2 separate regions of the Homo sapiens genome follow, and region 2 is linked to region 1. Evidence: fine-mapped expression QTL. Tissue or cell type: whole blood. Region 1 holds a variant in brackets; the other region holds the start of a gene. All regions are shown on one strand. Distances are between the middles of the regions.

What was found. PIP is the estimated chance that this variant, and not a neighbour inherited with it, causes the effect.
Region 2: it holds the start of TRIM7, and the variant in region 1 is fine-mapped to the expression of TRIM7 in whole blood (TOPMed, PIP above 0.99).

What each region holds. Positions count from the first base shown.
Region 1 is chr5:181,227,822-181,235,821 of GRCh38, reverse strand. TRIM41 (tripartite motif containing 41) reads right to left here. Exons shown (of 6, transcript NM_033549.5): 2 at 4,983-5,078; 3 at 2,933-3,163; 4 at 2,387-2,409; 5 at 2,059-2,186; 6 at 14-1,648. The coding sequence ends at 1,047. Among named protein-coding and RNA genes, the nearest start is that of TRIM41, 8.5 kb to the right of the region's middle. The variant C/T (reference allele first, on the strand shown) is at 3,666.
Region 2 is chr5:181,200,436-181,208,435 of GRCh38, reverse strand. It overlaps TRIM7 (tripartite motif containing 7), which reads left to right and starts at 3,240. Exons shown (of 7, transcript NM_203293.3): 1 at 3,240-3,847; 2 at 4,796-4,891. The coding sequence starts at 3,326. TRIM7-AS1 (TRIM7 antisense RNA 1) reads right to left here. Exons shown (of 2, transcript XR_001743050.3): 1 at 7,420-8,000; 2 at 5,319-5,848. It overlaps TRA-TGC3-1 (tRNA-Ala (anticodon TGC) 3-1), which reads right to left and starts at 1,568; the gene lies at 1,497-1,568. TRK-CTT2-2 (tRNA-Lys (anticodon CTT) 2-2) reads right to left here and starts at 681; the gene lies at 609-681. RefSeq lists enhancers at 328-417, 798-857 and silencers at 1,558-1,657, 2,962-3,281, 3,542-3,871, 3,912-3,981, 5,793-6,087.

The DNA of each region.
Region 1 (8,000 bases):
AACAGACCTCACAAGAGAAGCAAATAAACATTTTATTTCCACAGCACGCCTTCCCTTTTCCCAAAGAACATGAGTTCACCTCAGCCATCAAAGCAGAGGGCGAAAGCTGCAAGTGACAAGGCAAGAGGCTCCTAGAAAAATAGATTATACCCAAGGCTCTCCTCCTGGGGACCCAAACCCGTCCCCAGGCTCCCCCTCAGAGCTTGCCAAATGGAGTGAAAGGCATGGAAAGGGGCTGGGAGAAAAGCCAGCTCCACTGAACAAAGGGGAGAGGAGCCTGGCAGTGAGCAGACCTGGGAGGGGTGTGGGGTGGGATGAGCTTTGCTCCTTGGTTGAGTGCTGGAAAAGGGAAGGGGGAAGAAATAATTTATGTTGATGTAATTAATGTAATGATGATGTAATGGTGCGTGGTTTCAATCATGGCGACCATTCCAGATCTCTCTCAAGTGAAGCTAAATTCTGGCCGGTCTATGGAGGTAGAAATTGAGGACGGAAGGAAAGTTTAGAATCCCTCCTCCCCAGGAGAATAGACATTTATTACCCAGCTCTACCCTTTGGCCCAGCCTGCCTCCCCAAATGGCTTCCAAATCCCTCAGCTAAAATCTGCATCAGAAAATGGAATTGGAATGGGGATGTTGCCTTGCCCAAACCCTCCAGCCTCAGAACTGATAAAGAGGTTGAAGAGCAGGGGTGGGGAAAAGGAAGTTAAGGAATGAAATTACAATTTCCCCTCATCCCCTACTCAAATTCCAGTCCCAGGGCTGGGCTAGGCAGACTGGGAGAGAAGACCAGGCAGCTGTTCTCATTATCAGGGACCCATGCAGACCTGTTGGACAGACATAGTAGGTGAGAGAAGGCTGAGCTGGAGGCCAGGAGGGTTCTTTAGGCTCCTAGAGGGAGAAGCAGGGGCCTGGGGTCAAGGGGGAGTGGGAAGCAACACAGTAACAAGCAGTGGGAAGAGCCTTTGAGCCCTCAAACTTACGGGCCACCCTCCACCACCCACCCCCCAAGTGCTGACAGAGGGGCCCCTGCGGGTGGCAGGATAATCAAGGGCAGAGCTTGATGCGGGTGCCCTTGGAGAGCACCCGGAAGAAAGGAAAGACACGCTCGCCCAGGAAGGCAGCCGAGAAGGTGTGCACGTGGGCTAGAGTCTCTGCGTTGTAGAAGCCCAGGCGCCCAGCTTCATAGTCCAGGTACACACCAAAGCGCCTTGGTTTCTCACTGGGGCTCAGCAGCGTCTGTTCTGTGGAGCTCTGGGCCTGATAGCGTTTGCCGTTGGTGCCCACGCACCACACTTCCCGCTGGAGCAGGGGCTGCTGGGGCAGGTGGAGCCGGCGGCGGCGATGGTGATGGCGCGAGGAGCTGGCATCCCCGCTGCCCACGGAGGAACCCCCAGGGCCCACCTTTTCCTTATGATGGGTTGATTCACGGGCAGCACCCACCGCCCAGCCCCGCCGCCCGCCCACCTCTACCTCCCAGTAGTGCCGGCCGGAGCGGAAGCCCTGGGCCCCCAGTACGCAGCAGTCGGCCGAGAAGCGCTTGGGATGGTCAGCAACCTCCTGCCGCCGCTCTGCCAGGCGGACCCCCCGGCGGTCAGGGGACAGCATCAGGGCCGGGTGAGCCGTGTCAGGGTCCAGCGTCAGGTCCACTTGGGAGGGAGGGAGGACAAATACGCCAGGGCTGGAACGGCTGTTCCCCTGTCAGCAGCCAACTCCACAGATTGGGCCCCCTTTCTCCCTGAATCCAGCTCCCCACACCATCCCAGAGGCCAGCCTCAGATTCCTGCAGGCTCATCTTGCTCCTCACTCTTGTTCCTAGGATACCTGACAGGTCTTCCCCCAGCCTGGCTCTTCCTGCCACTCCACCCCACCCCACCCTCCAGGCCTGCCTGCACTAGGTCTACCTGCTCATGGCTTGAAACCTCAACCTCAGAGTGGCTGCCTGGATCCTGCTCCATCTCAAGCCCCACAGTTTCCCTGGGGCCCAACTTCCCTCAGGACCCAGTCTCAGGTCTGTGAAGGGAAAGGCAAAGGAAGGTCGTGGAGGTGACCTCCCTACCTCTCGCAGCCTGACAGAACATCCGGCTCATTTTCCTCACGATGGCATCTGTCAGGAAGTCATGGCTATGGGGTTGGCACGGGTCAGGGGACCAGACCTCTGGGGGCTGCAGCTGTACCTCTTCACACCTGGAGGAAGGGGACCGGGCAGGGGGTGGGACCACGATATTCCCAGAGGGAAAAGCAAAAGCTGAGGGGAAGGAGAGGAGGGTCCAGGAGATGGAAACTCAGGTCCTGGGGAAGGAAGGAGAGGAGAGGGATACCGAAGAGAAGCAGGGACAGGGAACCAGATGCCACTGGGTCACGAAGGGCAAAGACTGGGAACACACCTATTGAAAGTCTCCTTGATGTCCTGGGAATAAGAGAAACAAAAAGAGGGAGAGGGAGAAAGAGATAAAGAGAGTGTCAGCTGCACAGGGACAGCGTTCCCCGATCTCCAGTCAGAGACTGAACCTGAGCAGGAAGGGAGAAGCAGCACCCTCACGGCCCTCAATGAACACACATCCATTTCAACCACCCCATGCCTCGCCATACCTAACTCGCCTCATCCTGCTGTGAGCCCAGGGATACTGTCATTTCCACAATACGACTTGCTCACCTTTTTCAGGATGTCACTGTCAAAAAGACTTTCCTCAACTGTCATTTAAACCTCTCCTACAACCGAATCTTCATGCTTTTCACTGGGTATAATCGCCACACATACCACATTCGACATTAACTCTGTTTCCAGCTTTAAAACATGTTTTTGGTCTTCAGGTTCAATCACTGTGGGTTCCTCCCAGGGAGAAAAGAGGCAGCTCTGGACAGGCGTTTGGTAAGCACTGCCTGACAGCCAACACAGAATGCTGGGGGAACAGGGAGGGGACATTGCTCACCTGGAGCAGCCGGAGACCCCCCTGCTGGCTCCGCTCCTGGGCCTCTGCCAGCAGGCGGCTGAGCTGGGCGGCCTGTTCTGCAAGGCGACTAGCCGCGGCTCCCGCACGCCCCAGCTGGGCTTCATGCATCTCTCTGAGACGCCGTTCCAGCCCTGCCTGCTCTTCAGCCAGAAACCGTGTCAGTCGCCCAAACTCCGAGGCCACCGCTGCCAGCTCTGACTTCATCTGGCTCTGGAATGGTGCAAAGGGGATGGCAGACACCACCTCAACACGTACGAAGATAACCTCCAGTTTTGCAACTACTACTTCTCAATGCAAGGCAAAGGAGCCCTACACTCCCCAGGTCCAAGATAGTCCCGGAAAGAGGCTCATCCCCTACCAGCCTTACCAGATACCACCCCCTTGCTCCCAGCACAGTGGTCTCAAACTCACTAACCTCTGCCTGGAACACTCCTCTCCACCTGACTCTACCTAAGTTGACTCATCCTTCAGGTCCAACCTTAAATATTCCAAGACAAGCCTTCCCTCCTCTCCAGATCTAAATCGGGACCATCCCCACAAATATCACTGTATCTCTCTGTGGCACATATAATATTGAAACGTTGTGTTTAAATGACGTAACTGTTAACATCCTTTCCCCCACTGTACCATGAGCTCCCACTGACAGGGACTAGGAATGTCTTTGTTTGCCAGGGTCCTCGGACCCTGACATAGTACCAATCAGAGTAGGCAC[C/T]TGGTAAAAATTTTTGAAATGAATAAATAAAAGAATTCAGGAATCAAAACATGAAGTTAGGGTCCCGACGCCATTAAACACAGTGACCTTAAGAAAGTCACCCAAAAGCCCCAGATCAGAACTCGGAAAAACTTTTTCTGTGAAGGTCCAGATAGTAAGTATTTTTATGCTTTGTGGGCTAAGAGGCAAAAATCAAGGATATTATGTAGGGACTTAATATCCTGTAACAGAAAAAACTCCTGCCCAGTCCCACCCTATTTGCCAGGGATGGCCCTTCCTGGGTGGTAGGCACACTTTTCACACAGCTACCATCGGCTGCAGACGCTGTGAGCAGCAGGCCAGAGGAGGGTCCCAACTGACCAGACGCGTGAGGGAACAGCCGCCACAGTCAGCTTCACTCTATGCCAGGGGCACACAGCTCCTGTTACCTCTATACCCAGGAGAGCCCAAAAGTATCAACTTGGGCAGCTGGCCAGAAGCACGATGACTTCCTACTCCCAGACAGATCCTACCATTCAGTGCCTAGCAGTCGCCAGCAGCAGAGTCCCTAACGTTCAGGTGGCAGTGAGCATGGGCCCTGGGTAGTGGCAAGGCCCAGGCACTGGCTGGGAAGGGAGGAGGGAAGAGGGACAGAAGGGGAGGTCCTGGCTTGGTCTATGAAGCTCACAGTGCCAGCCCATCCCAGCAGGACCTGCTGGGGTTATGAAAACAGGCGGGAGGTGGGGATGGAAAATGTATCTTAAAAGACTCCTTGGAGAAGGGCGAGCAATAATGGAAAAAAACAACAAAAAAAGCGGGGGGGTCGGGGTGTGCTGAGAAAACACTAGACTAGGAAATATTAGGTCTCTGCAGTGCTAACATACACTAAATCCTGCCCCAGCTTAAACACACTGGCCCCCTCTCAGGACACAGCAAGTGTCCCAGGACAGTGTCCGCCTCATGCTTAGGGCTGCTCTGCCCAGTGCCTGCATGGATCCTGGGGCCGGCAGCTTCTCTGATGGCTGCTATGTGGGTTTTGCTTTGCCCCCTTCAGGCTCTGGTGTCGGGTAGAAAGCCTGTTCTGCAGCCTTGGGCCAGGCACCTAGGCCCTCCAATCCAGGCCTCAGTTTCCACTCCATTTTGGAACCAGGAATGAACATGCCTCCTGATTCTCTAAGGCCCCGCTCTCCTCAGCACCTAGGGAAAGCATCTACCCCTCTCCCAGGCCTTAGCTGTCCCCTCCTCAGGGGACCAAGTCACTCCCTGTGAGAGTGGGAAGCCCTACCTTCCTTGCCTCGACTGTACTGCCCATCAGCCCCGTCGAGAACATTCACCCACCTTCAGTTCTGTCACTCGCCTCTCCTCCTTGGCTTTCATCTTCTGCACTGCCTCCAGGTGCTTCCTCAGTGGTTCCACGTGCCCCTGCAGTTTGGCCTGAGGAAACAGAAAAAGAAAAGTGGGGGCTGGGAGAGGCACCTGCCCTTCAGAGCCTACCTCTGCAATCCTCCCTATAGCAAGATGGGTCAAAGCCTGATCCCTACCCCCGAAAATGGGTGTCAAGTGAGTATTATACCTTCCTCCACTTTCTTCTTTCAGATGATGACAAAAGCCTCCAATCCCTCTGTGCACGTCTGCAGAAGCCCTGTGTGTATTTTTTTTTTTTTTTTTTTTTTTTTTTTTTGAGACAGAGTCTCGCTCTGTCGCTCAGGCTGGAGTGCAGTGGCACGATCTTGGCTCACTGGAACCTCCACCTCCCGGATTCAAGCGATTCTCCTGCCTCAGCCTTCCCAGTAGCTGGTACTACAGGTGCCCACCACCACGCCTGGCTAATTTTTTTATTTTTAGTAGAGACGTGGTTTCACCTCGCCATGCTACCCAGGATGGTCTCAATCTCCTGACCTCGTGATCCGTCCACCTCAGCCTCCCAAAGTACTGAGATTATAGGCGTGAGCCACCGCGCCCGGCCGGCCCTGTGTGTATTCTCTAAAGGTAGGAGCCTCAAGACTAGAGAGCTCCCACGCTCACAGCTGAGGGGAAGTGGCTTGAGCCCCGCACCAGAGTCTTTCCAGGGGTGCCCTCACCTTTGGTCCCCTTCCCCTTCACAGGCGATCTTCCCCAGAACTCTTCTCTCTAAATACTTTTCTGATGATTTTTTTCCTATGCTAAAACCTTTCCATGGGTCACCACCACTTCCAAAACATTGACCCCACACTTCCAGCCTCACCTCTACACTCAACGCCTTCCACACAGACTCTTAACACGTTTGACCACATAAAATTACTTGTCATTTCCTGAGTATAATTCCATGCTGTTCCCTCTGTCTGGGAGTGCCTTTCTCCACTTGGCCCAAGGTATTCTTCCTTTAAAACAGCTCCCTGAAAATGGCCCTGATCCTCCCCACCCCCAACATCCTCTGTGATCCCAAGAAATATCTAATACATGAGTTCCCAGGGCACCAATGACAGGTGTGCCTCCTCCAGGACACTGCGGAGTCCCTGCCCACACTCTACTTATTTCAACTTCTTTGCTTCTTTCTGCTCATCTGCTTTCTCTCCTGCTCAATTACTTGCTAAATGGCAAAGGACACCGAAACCCCTCTTCCAAAGGTTGTAACTGTTATAGCCAATAGGCACACGAGCTCTGTGTTTCTACAATTTGTAGCCAAATACTTTTCTTTAAAGGGCTGTTAGCCCAGAATGAGTGGAATAAGCCCTACCTATTTGCTCTTACCTTTTCTATGTCTTCTACTAGCCTGTCTCCTTTTCTTTGAGAGAGAATATAGGGTAGGAGAGCTCCAGCCTGACTCCAGTCAGGACCAGAGGGAAGTGAAGTGACCTCAGGCAAGCCATGCTTTCAGTTTCCTCAGCTTCAAATAAGAAGAGAATGGACCTCATGGATAGCACACTTACTGCAGTGCCTGGCATGTAGCAGAAGATCAGTAAATGTTATCTAATATTTGTTCCCTATACCTTAAGCTGCCAGTGACATCCTGATAATGACCCCTGAACTAAAGAGTTTACCAAGCCAGAGTGCAAACAGCAGTTGCTGCACAGGATAAGTGGTTGTAGACAAAATTACAGTAATAATGGAATTATAGTCAACTCGTGACAATAGCATGAACTACACAAAATTTGGCCTTCTGATATAACTTTCTACTTTTCTAGTCAATAATTTCTCCATTAATTCAGAATTTATAACGCTTAAATTTACCATTTACTGTTTTTTTTTTTTTTTTTTTTTTTTTGAGACAGAGTCTTGCTCTGTCGCCTAGAATGGAGTGCAGCAGTGCCATCTCGGCTCGCTGCAACATCCAACTCCTGGGTTCAAGCAATTCTCCTGCCTCAGCCTCCCGAGTAGCTGAGATTAAAGGTGCCCACCACCACACCTGGCTAATTTTTGTATTTTTAGTAGAGACAGGGTTTCACCATGTTGGCCAGGCTGGTCTTAACTCCTGCCCTCAAGTGATCTGCCCACCTCTGCCTCCCAAAGTGCTGGGACTACAGGTGTGAGCCACCGTGCCGGGACCCTAAATTGCTGACAAAAACAAAAATTAATAAGCACAAATTCAAACAGAGTTCTATTTAAGATATATTTCCTTTTTTTTTTTTTTTTTTTTTTTGAGATGGGAGTCTCGCTGTGTTGCCCAGGCTGGAATGCAGTAGCACAATCTTGGCTCACTGCAACCTCTGCCTCCCAGGTTCAAGCGATTCTCTTGCCCCAGCCTCCCGAGTAGCTGGGATTACAGGCACATGCCATCATGCTGGCTAATTTTGTATTTTTAGTAGAGACGGAATTTCACCATGTTGGCCAGGCTGGTCTTGAACTCCTGACTTCAAGTGATCCACCTGCCTCAGCCTCCCAAAGTGCTGGGATTACAGGCGTGAGCCACCACAGCCAGCCAGTTATAAGAGAAATTCTCAAAACATTTTTTCTTTTTTTTTTTGAGACAGAGTCTCGCTCTGTTGTCCAGGCTGGAGTGCAGTGGCGTGATCTCAGCTCACTGCAAGCTCCACCGCCCCCGGGTTCACGCCATTCTCCTGCCTCAGCCTCCCGAGTAGCTGGGACTACAGGCACCCGCCACCATGCCCGGCCAACTTTCAAAACATTTAACTGTCGGGCAGACACAGTAATCCCAGCACTTTGAGGGGCCAAAATGGGAAGATTGCTTGAGGCCAGTGGTTCAAGACCAGCCTGAGCAACACAGCAAGACCCTGTCTCCACGAAAAAAAAAAAAAAAAAATTAGCTGGGCATGATGGCACACACCTCCAGTCCCAGCTACTACTCAGGATCACCTGAACCCAGAAGGTCAAGGCTGCAGTGAGCTATGATCATGCTACTGCATTCTAGCCTGGCCA
Region 2 (8,000 bases), 27 kb after region 1:
AATGTGGTATATATGTGCAATGGAATGCTAATCAGCTTTAAAAGGAAGGAAATTTTGACACATGCTACAATAAGGATGAATCTTGAAGACATTAAGTGAAATAAGACAATTTAAAAAGGAAATATAAGGATGAATCTTGAAGACATTAAGTGAAATAAGACAATTTAAAAAGGAAATATTGCACGATTCATCTTATATGAGGTATCTAGAGGAGTCAAATTCAAAGACACAGAAAGTAGAATGGTGGTTGCCAGCGTCTGTGGGCAGAGGGGAATGGAGAGTTAATGCTGAATGGGTTCAGAGTTTCATCTGGGAAACAGGAAAAAGGACTGGAGACTGATGCACAACCATTTAAATGTATTTAATGCTACAGAACTGTACAGTTAAAAAGTGTTAAATTTTGTTGGGCATATTTTACCACAGCTTTAAATCCTAATTGTATCGCAAGATAATGGGTAGATAATGAACAGTGGAGCGCCCGCAAGAGTATTACACACACAGAAATGCAAGACTTCAGAGCAGATTATTTTCCTAAGAGCTGGTCTACTTATAATATATTTTTAGGTATGGCTAGTAGTCGTAGATTTAGGACTAAAACGACCAGTTGCCGCCCAACGTGGGGCTCGAACCCACGACCCTGAGATTAAGAGTCTCATGCTCTACCGACTGAGCTAGCCGGGCGCCCGATGACCGTATCTCAACAATTTTTCATTCTAGATCAGAGTCGGAGTGTATTCAACTGCGGGTTTGAACTTGGATTTATTTGGAGTGTGATAAAACTACTAAAGTGCCTCGGCTCCTGGGAAATTCAAACTCTGCCGTCAGTGCCTGACCGTCCCTCCCACTTACGTCCGTTTCCTGCCCCTTCTACCCTACCAGCGACCAAGCCATTTTCTACCCGCGATGAAGCTCACGGCACGGAGATGGAGAAACGTGCACCCTGACGCCACTGGAGCTCTCACCGTGTGGATTTTTTTTTTTTTTTTTTTTTTGACAGAGAAGACTCTCAAAAAATGGGCCTACCTTTCACCACGAACTGCGGCTCTGTCGCCCAGGCTGGAGTGTCGTGGCGCAATCTCGGTTCACTGCAACCTCTGCCTCCTGGATTCAAGCACTTCTCCTGCCTCAGCCTCCTGAGTAGCTGGGATTACAGGCGTGTGCCACCACTCCCGGCTAATTTTTGTATTTTTAGTAGAGACGGGGCTTCTCCATGTTAGTCAGGCTGGCCTCAAACTCCTGACCTCGTGATCCACCCGCCTCGGCCTCCCAAAGTGCTGGGATTACAGACGTGAGCTACCTCACCCGGTCAAGTACCGTGTGGATTTTAAAACAGGAGGGAAAGACAATGGGGCCCAGAGGAGGGCAGGGGCCGCCGCGGTCTTTTTCTACTCCGCAGACTCCACCCTCTGGGTTTTTTCTTGGAGCTCTTCAAACATGCTGGATTTCAAAATTTGAAAGGAAAATCGAAAACAATAATTGAATGTGCAAAACTACACTGGAGATGCCGGGGATCGAACCCGGGGCCTCATACATGCAAAGCATGCGCTCTACCACTGAGCTACATCCCCACCTACTCTCAGCAGCTCTCCCAGATGGTCCCTATTGGTCGCTTAACTCAGGACACCGGGAGTGGAAGGCAACCGGTACGCGCTGGGTCTCAGCCGCTGCAAAAACCCGGCATCGCAGGGCAAGAGTTGTTCCAGCGTCCTCCGCTGACTCCAAACCAGCGGGTCTTGACCAAGGGATTCCAAGAGAGAGGATTAGGCCCGGCTAAGCACCTGGGAGCAGCTGTGGAAAAAGGAGAGACAATCATCAGGCACGATGCCAAAAATGAACTGTGACCTGAAAAAGAGAAGAAAGGAAAATTGTGCAGGATGCTACGTTTTGTTTTTTAAAAGTGGGGGTTGAGGCAATAAAATACGGAATATTTGATTAACGTAATCCAGAATTGTAAAGTTGATTGCTCGGGAGGAAGAAAGGACTGGGACACAGGCGATGGGCCTACTTTCCACCGTGAACTGCGGCTCCTCTTTTGAATTTCGAACCAAGTTTAATCCAAGAAAACCTTACTGAGCTTGCCAAGAACTGCTCTAAAAACAGGATTCAGCCGTGAACAAACCTAGTACAGTCCATCTGAAAGCTGACATTCCAGAGGAGATAGAGTGCGGGCACAGAGCCGGCCCTGAGAAGGGAGCGCGCTAAGAGACGACTTTACACAGTGTGCGCGTTCGGGGCGGGCTTCGTGGGCAGAGACGTTTGAAACAAGACCTGAATGAGGTGGGAGGGAGCATGCAGGTGGTGGGAGAAAAGAGGTCCACGCAAGGGGAACAGCCAGCGCAGAGGCCACGGGGTTCAGGAACAGCAAGAAGATCGGGGACACTGGGTCCTGGAAGGCCCTGAGAAGGGAAGTCGGGAAGGAGGGAGCATCCGGGGGCAGATGAGGTGAGGCGAGGTCTTCGCCTTTGGGTGAGAATTGCTGAAGTTCCCGGTGACATTGGCAAGGGCGGTTTCTGAGGAGGGTGCGGGCGAAAGCTTGATCCAAGTGGCCTCCAGAGTGAGCGAGGAGAGAGGGTGTGGAAGCGGATAACACAGGCAGCTCTGCTGCGGGGCTGTGGAGACAGCTGGGGGACAAGAGAGCGCTGAGGTTTGTGTGTGTGTGTGTGTGTGTGTGTGTGTGTGCGGTGGGGGGGGAATAATACTGAATACAATGGGAAATTATAAATGTGTTATCTGTTCAAATACTAAGTAAAGAGTAAAGAAGCCGGAGGACAGTCGCAGAAAAGGTAATGGAATGGATACAAGGCCACGCTTGCGCGTGAGGGGACAGGACCAGGTTCCAGTCTCTAAATTTAACTCAGCACAGGGCCGGGGCGAACCTGCGCTGGCGGAACCTGACACCGTGGCCCGAGCGCCAGGCCCTTGCCCCGGCGATGCTGGGTCGGCCTCGGTCGGAAACCGGGAGTGGCGCTGGCAGCATTTGTGCGCCCACCTGTCGCGGCCCGTTTCCCGCGGCTGACTGGGTCAGGCTGGGGCGGCCTGGAGAGTCTGAGGGACGGGGGCGAGGGGGAGAGGCCGCTGGCCAGGGCGGGGGCTGGTGGAGCGCAGATCCGGGGCGCAGGGCGCTGTCCCGCACTTGAATGGCCCGTAGTCAACGTGCGCCTCCCCTCCCGGCTCCCAGCCGGGCGCGCCCCGGGCTCGAGTCTCTGCCTGCCCAGTGGCAGCCCCGCCCTTCCTCTCCCAGTGGGCCCTCGGCGCCCAGCTCCGCGTCCTGTGAGGTCCAGTGGCCGCCCAGGCGCGACCAGATCTGGGTGCGCGGAGAGCGCGCATGGCGGCTGTGGGACCGCGGACCGGCCCCGGAACCGGCGCCGAGGCTCTAGCGCTGGCGGCAGAGCTGCAGGGCGAGGCGACGTGCTCCATCTGCCTAGAGCTCTTTCGTGAGCCGGTGTCCGTCGAGTGCGGCCACAGCTTCTGCCGCGCCTGCATAGGGCGCTGCTGGGAGCGCCCGGGCGCGGGGTCTGTTGGGGCCGCCACCCGCGCGCCCCCCTTCCCACTGCCCTGTCCGCAGTGCCGCGAGCCCGCGCGCCCCAGTCAGCTGCGGCCCAACCGGCAGCTGGCGGCAGTGGCCACGCTCCTGCGGCGCTTCAGCCTGCCCGCGGCTGCCCCGGGAGAGCACGGGTCTCAGGCGGCCGCGGCCCGGGCAGCGGCTGCCCGCTGCGGGCAGCATGGCGAACCCTTCAAGCTCTACTGCCAGGACGACGGACGCGCCATCTGCGTGGTGTGCGACCGCGCCCGCGAGCACCGCGAGCACGCCGTGCTGCCGCTGGACGAGGCGGTGCAGGAGGCCAAGGTGAGCGCAGCCCCCACCCACCCCGTGGGTCCCCGGGACCCCCTGACTTGGTCCCGCGCTCCCGCGCACGGGGTGCAGAGAACAGCCTGTCGATCAGGAGGCCCGGGTGAGCCCCTCCCTTCTTTCTCCATTCCAGGAAGCCCAGCGCTGGTTCCCGGGCTGAGCGCGGTTCTCTGTCACCCCCAACATCACCAATACCCCCACCCCACCCCCACTGCGTTTCCCTCTGGGCCAGATACTGGGCCGCCTGCGCGACGTCCCCCACGGACTTGGCGATGTTCTTCCTGTCTGTTCGGAGCCTCTAGCCTGGTCTGCGTCTCCGCAGCTCTCTGCCCGCGGGAAGTCTCCGGCACAGCCACGCAGCCGCTGCCCCCACTCTTATCTCTTTCCCCGAAGCGGGCTCTGCTCAAAGTCCCCACCTCGTGGAACTGAGTGAGAGGACCTCGCCAAGATGTCCAGGGAGGGGGCTCCCGGGTTAAGCCGCGCACCTAGAGCCGTCTGACTGTGCCAACGCTGTCGATTCTGGGGGCCCTTTCTTTGCTATTTTCTCGCTGAGCCTCAGCGAGGGTGTGTGCAGGGGTGAGGGCGGGGCGGGGAGGCTCGGGCGGCAGTCCCCAGTCTCTCCTTGCTGGCCCATCCTGCTCCAACTCTCCCAGCCACGGGGCTTCCTGGTGGGGGGGCGGAGAGTAGAGGAGACGACTAGGGGTAGGGCTGCCGGAGCTTGTGTTTCAGTCTGGCTGGTCCAGCAGATGCTTTTGGGGAAGCAAGATCCCGAGACCTTCAGAGTCACCTCGCAGTGTAACCTGTAGCCTGTAGAGATGACTTCTACCCGGCCTCCCCCTCAGTGAGCAGGGCCTTCCCTTTCTCCTGGCTGGCTCCAGGAAGGCAGAGGTGGGGGTTTCCAGAAGCCCCTCACCCCCACCTTACATTGTTTCCCTTCATCTACAGGAGCTCTTGGAGTCCAGGCTGAGGGTCTTGAAGAAGGAACTGGAGGACTGTGAGGTGTTCCGGTCCACGGAAAAGAAGGAGAGCAAGGAGCTGCTGGTGAGCCAGGCACCCGCAGGCCCCCCGTGGGACATTACAGAGGCCTGAGAACTCAGCACCAGGGCTCGGTGTGTGTGGTGTTGGAGTGTGTGCTATGGAACCGCAGAATCGATTTCAGAAAGATAATAGAGTCCATATTATATAGGGTGTCCACATAATTGTTGTACAAACCAGAGCTTTTTAAAGTGAAAAGCAGTGCTAAAATAATTATTGCAAAACAACTGGCTTAAACTGGAGCTGTCCCAGCGAATCAGGACGCTCAGTCACTCTGATATTACGTAACATACCAGTTAGGGCCTGCGGAAGCATCTTGTAATGGAACACATTACTATTTCTGCAGAGAAACATGGATATTCAATAAGTGGGAATATTAATACAATAAAGAGCCTCATGGCATGTTTTGTCAACAAAACAGTAGTGAAAAAAATTTCATGTTCACAGTGTTTTTATTTGAAATCGAGGCTAACGGAGAAGGGGCTAGAGGGCGTCAGAGCTGCTCCCTGGCTCTGGCAGAGGGAGGAAGTTTAGGGTCTTGGGTTTACAGTAGCCCCTGCTGCACAGCCCAGGGTCTTGGGTACTGGCACCTGCCTCTACCCCAAGTTGGAATGATATTTTATCTTCCTTAGGGTAGAACAGGAAAGTGAAACGAGGGCTCATTTTGGTTAAGATAAGCAAACATGAGGCCTGGCAGGGTGGCTCACGCCTGTAATCCCAGCACTTTGGGAGGCCGAGGTGGGCGGATCACGAGGTCAGGAGATCAAGACCGTCCTGGCAAACACGGTGAAACCCCTGTCTCTACTAAAAATACAAAATAGCCGGGCGTGGTGGCGGGCGCCTGTAGTCCCAGCTACTCCGGAGGCTGAGGCAGGAGAATGGTGTGAACCCGGGAGGCAGAGCTTGCAGTGAGCCGAGATCGCGCCACTGCACTCCAGCCTGGGAGACAGAGCGAGACTCCACCTTAAAAAAAAAAAAAAAGATAAGCAAACATGAATCACCATCGGTCATTTTCTACCTTGCAAATTCAGTTCCTAGCTCAGTAAATAGGTGTTGAAAGAATAAAAGGATTGGCTGGGTGCGGTGGCTTACGCCCGTAATCCCAGCACTTTGGGAGGTCGAGGTGGGCGGATCACCTGAGGTTGGGAATTCCAGACCAGCCTGACCAACATGGAGCAACCCCATCTCTACTTAAAATACAAAATTAGCCTGCCGTGGTGGCACATGCCTGTAATCCCAGCTACTCGGGAGGCTGAGGCAGGAGAATCACTTGAACCCGGGAGGTAGAGGTTGCGGTCAGCCAAGATCATGCCACTGCACTCCAGCCTGGGCAACGAGAGTGAAACTCCATCTCAAAAAAAAAAAAAAAAAAGAATGAAAGGATCTACTAGGACCTGTCAAGGCAGGGAATTGAAGGAAGGTGAACTAGAGGACCCTCCCATCCTCAATGTCAGGAGGGGTGGAGGAGGAGCCTGGAGTTCAGACACCCTAGGGTCCTTTCCAGACCCTCAACTATATCTGTTATGCCTGCACCCAGTGTGCATCCCAGACCTTCCTACCTCATCACTCACTTTCCTCCATGAGGAAGAGCTCACCCTCTAGACCTTCATCCCTCCTCCACTGGAGAAATGACTCCCAATGCAGCTCTTCCCCCACTGGTTGACATCCAGGAACCAGAGGGCCTTCCCTGGCACCGGCGGCAGCTTCACAGTCTCTGACCGGAGTCCCCAGGCCTTGCTTAACACCTTCCACCTCTGTCCTCTCCCAACATCCATCCATCCACCCCCACATTCGTTTTTGTTGTTGTTTTGTTTTGCTTTGCTTTTAGACAGAGTCTCACTTTGTCACAAAGGCTGGAGTCGTTCAAGCGATCCCCCCACTTCAGCCTCCTGAGTAGCTGGGACTACAGGTGTGCACTACTACACCCGGCTAATTTTTAATTTATTTTTTGTAGAGCTGGGGTTGGGGGTAGTCTCCTGTGTTGCCCAGGCTGGTCTGGAACTCGTGGGCTCAAGCAACCTTCTCCCCTGACTTTGCCCCCCTCAGCCTCCCAAAGTGCTGAGATGACAGGTGTGAGCTCTACCTGTTCTTTGCAGCAATAAAATACTTCTGGATTTATGACACTTGTCTCATTTACAATACCCTGCTTAATGAAACATCAGAGGTAGAGCCCAACTATTGCTGCAACACAAAAGGGAGAAGGAATGCTCTTATTTGAAAATGCTCCTACCCCAGGGGACATCTGGCAAAGTCTGGAGATACTATATTTTTGGTTGTCAACAATGGGATAGGGATGCTATTGGCATTTCGTGGTAGAGGCCAGAGGGGCGGCTAAATGTCCTACAAGGCACAGGGCAGCCCCCTACAACCAAGAAGTATCTGGCCCAAAATGTCAACTGTGTTAAGGTTGGGAAACCCTGGCTTAGAGTATTTTGGCAAATACTGTTTCACTTGTGCTACCTCCTTGTGAGGCAACTGGCCGAGAAGCCTGGCTTAACACTTCCTGGTGATGTGTCTGTCTTTTGTCTCCTCACCTGTAAGACTTGAAGGGAAGTGCACCCTCCCCACTGGGCTGCCGTCAGGGTTGAGGGAGTTAATATCCATAAGGCGCTCCAGGCTACTGCAGCCTGCCTGGAAGCTGAAGGAAAGGTGGGGGCATTGTAGGACACCTTGAACCCAGGTCTCCCAACTTCACAGGACTCCCTTCCTCCGCCCAGGAGTTTTAAGGAAGAGGAACTTCCTGGTGGGACATATTGAGTGCCAAACGTGTGTTCACATAAAAAATCAAGAGATCAGGGCATGAGTCTGCATCTGAAAACTCGAGTAAAAAATCCGGTGTATGCTGTTAATGGAAAGAACAGAATATGACACTTGCATGCCGCATATTCTCACTTCGTTCCTTGGGGGTGTGCTGCTACCTCTGGTCACTGGCATCGGACTTTTCTTCCTTCTTTCTACTTTCCTACATCTCCCAAGTTTTGTATTTTGAGCATGTGTTAGCATTATAACTGCTAAACAGGAAAGATGGCCTTTAAAAAGAAAGTGAAGTGTAAAAGTTTGAGGGTGATGAAATAAATGTGCTTGAGGAAGAAAAAGCAATCTCAGTTTAATCCTA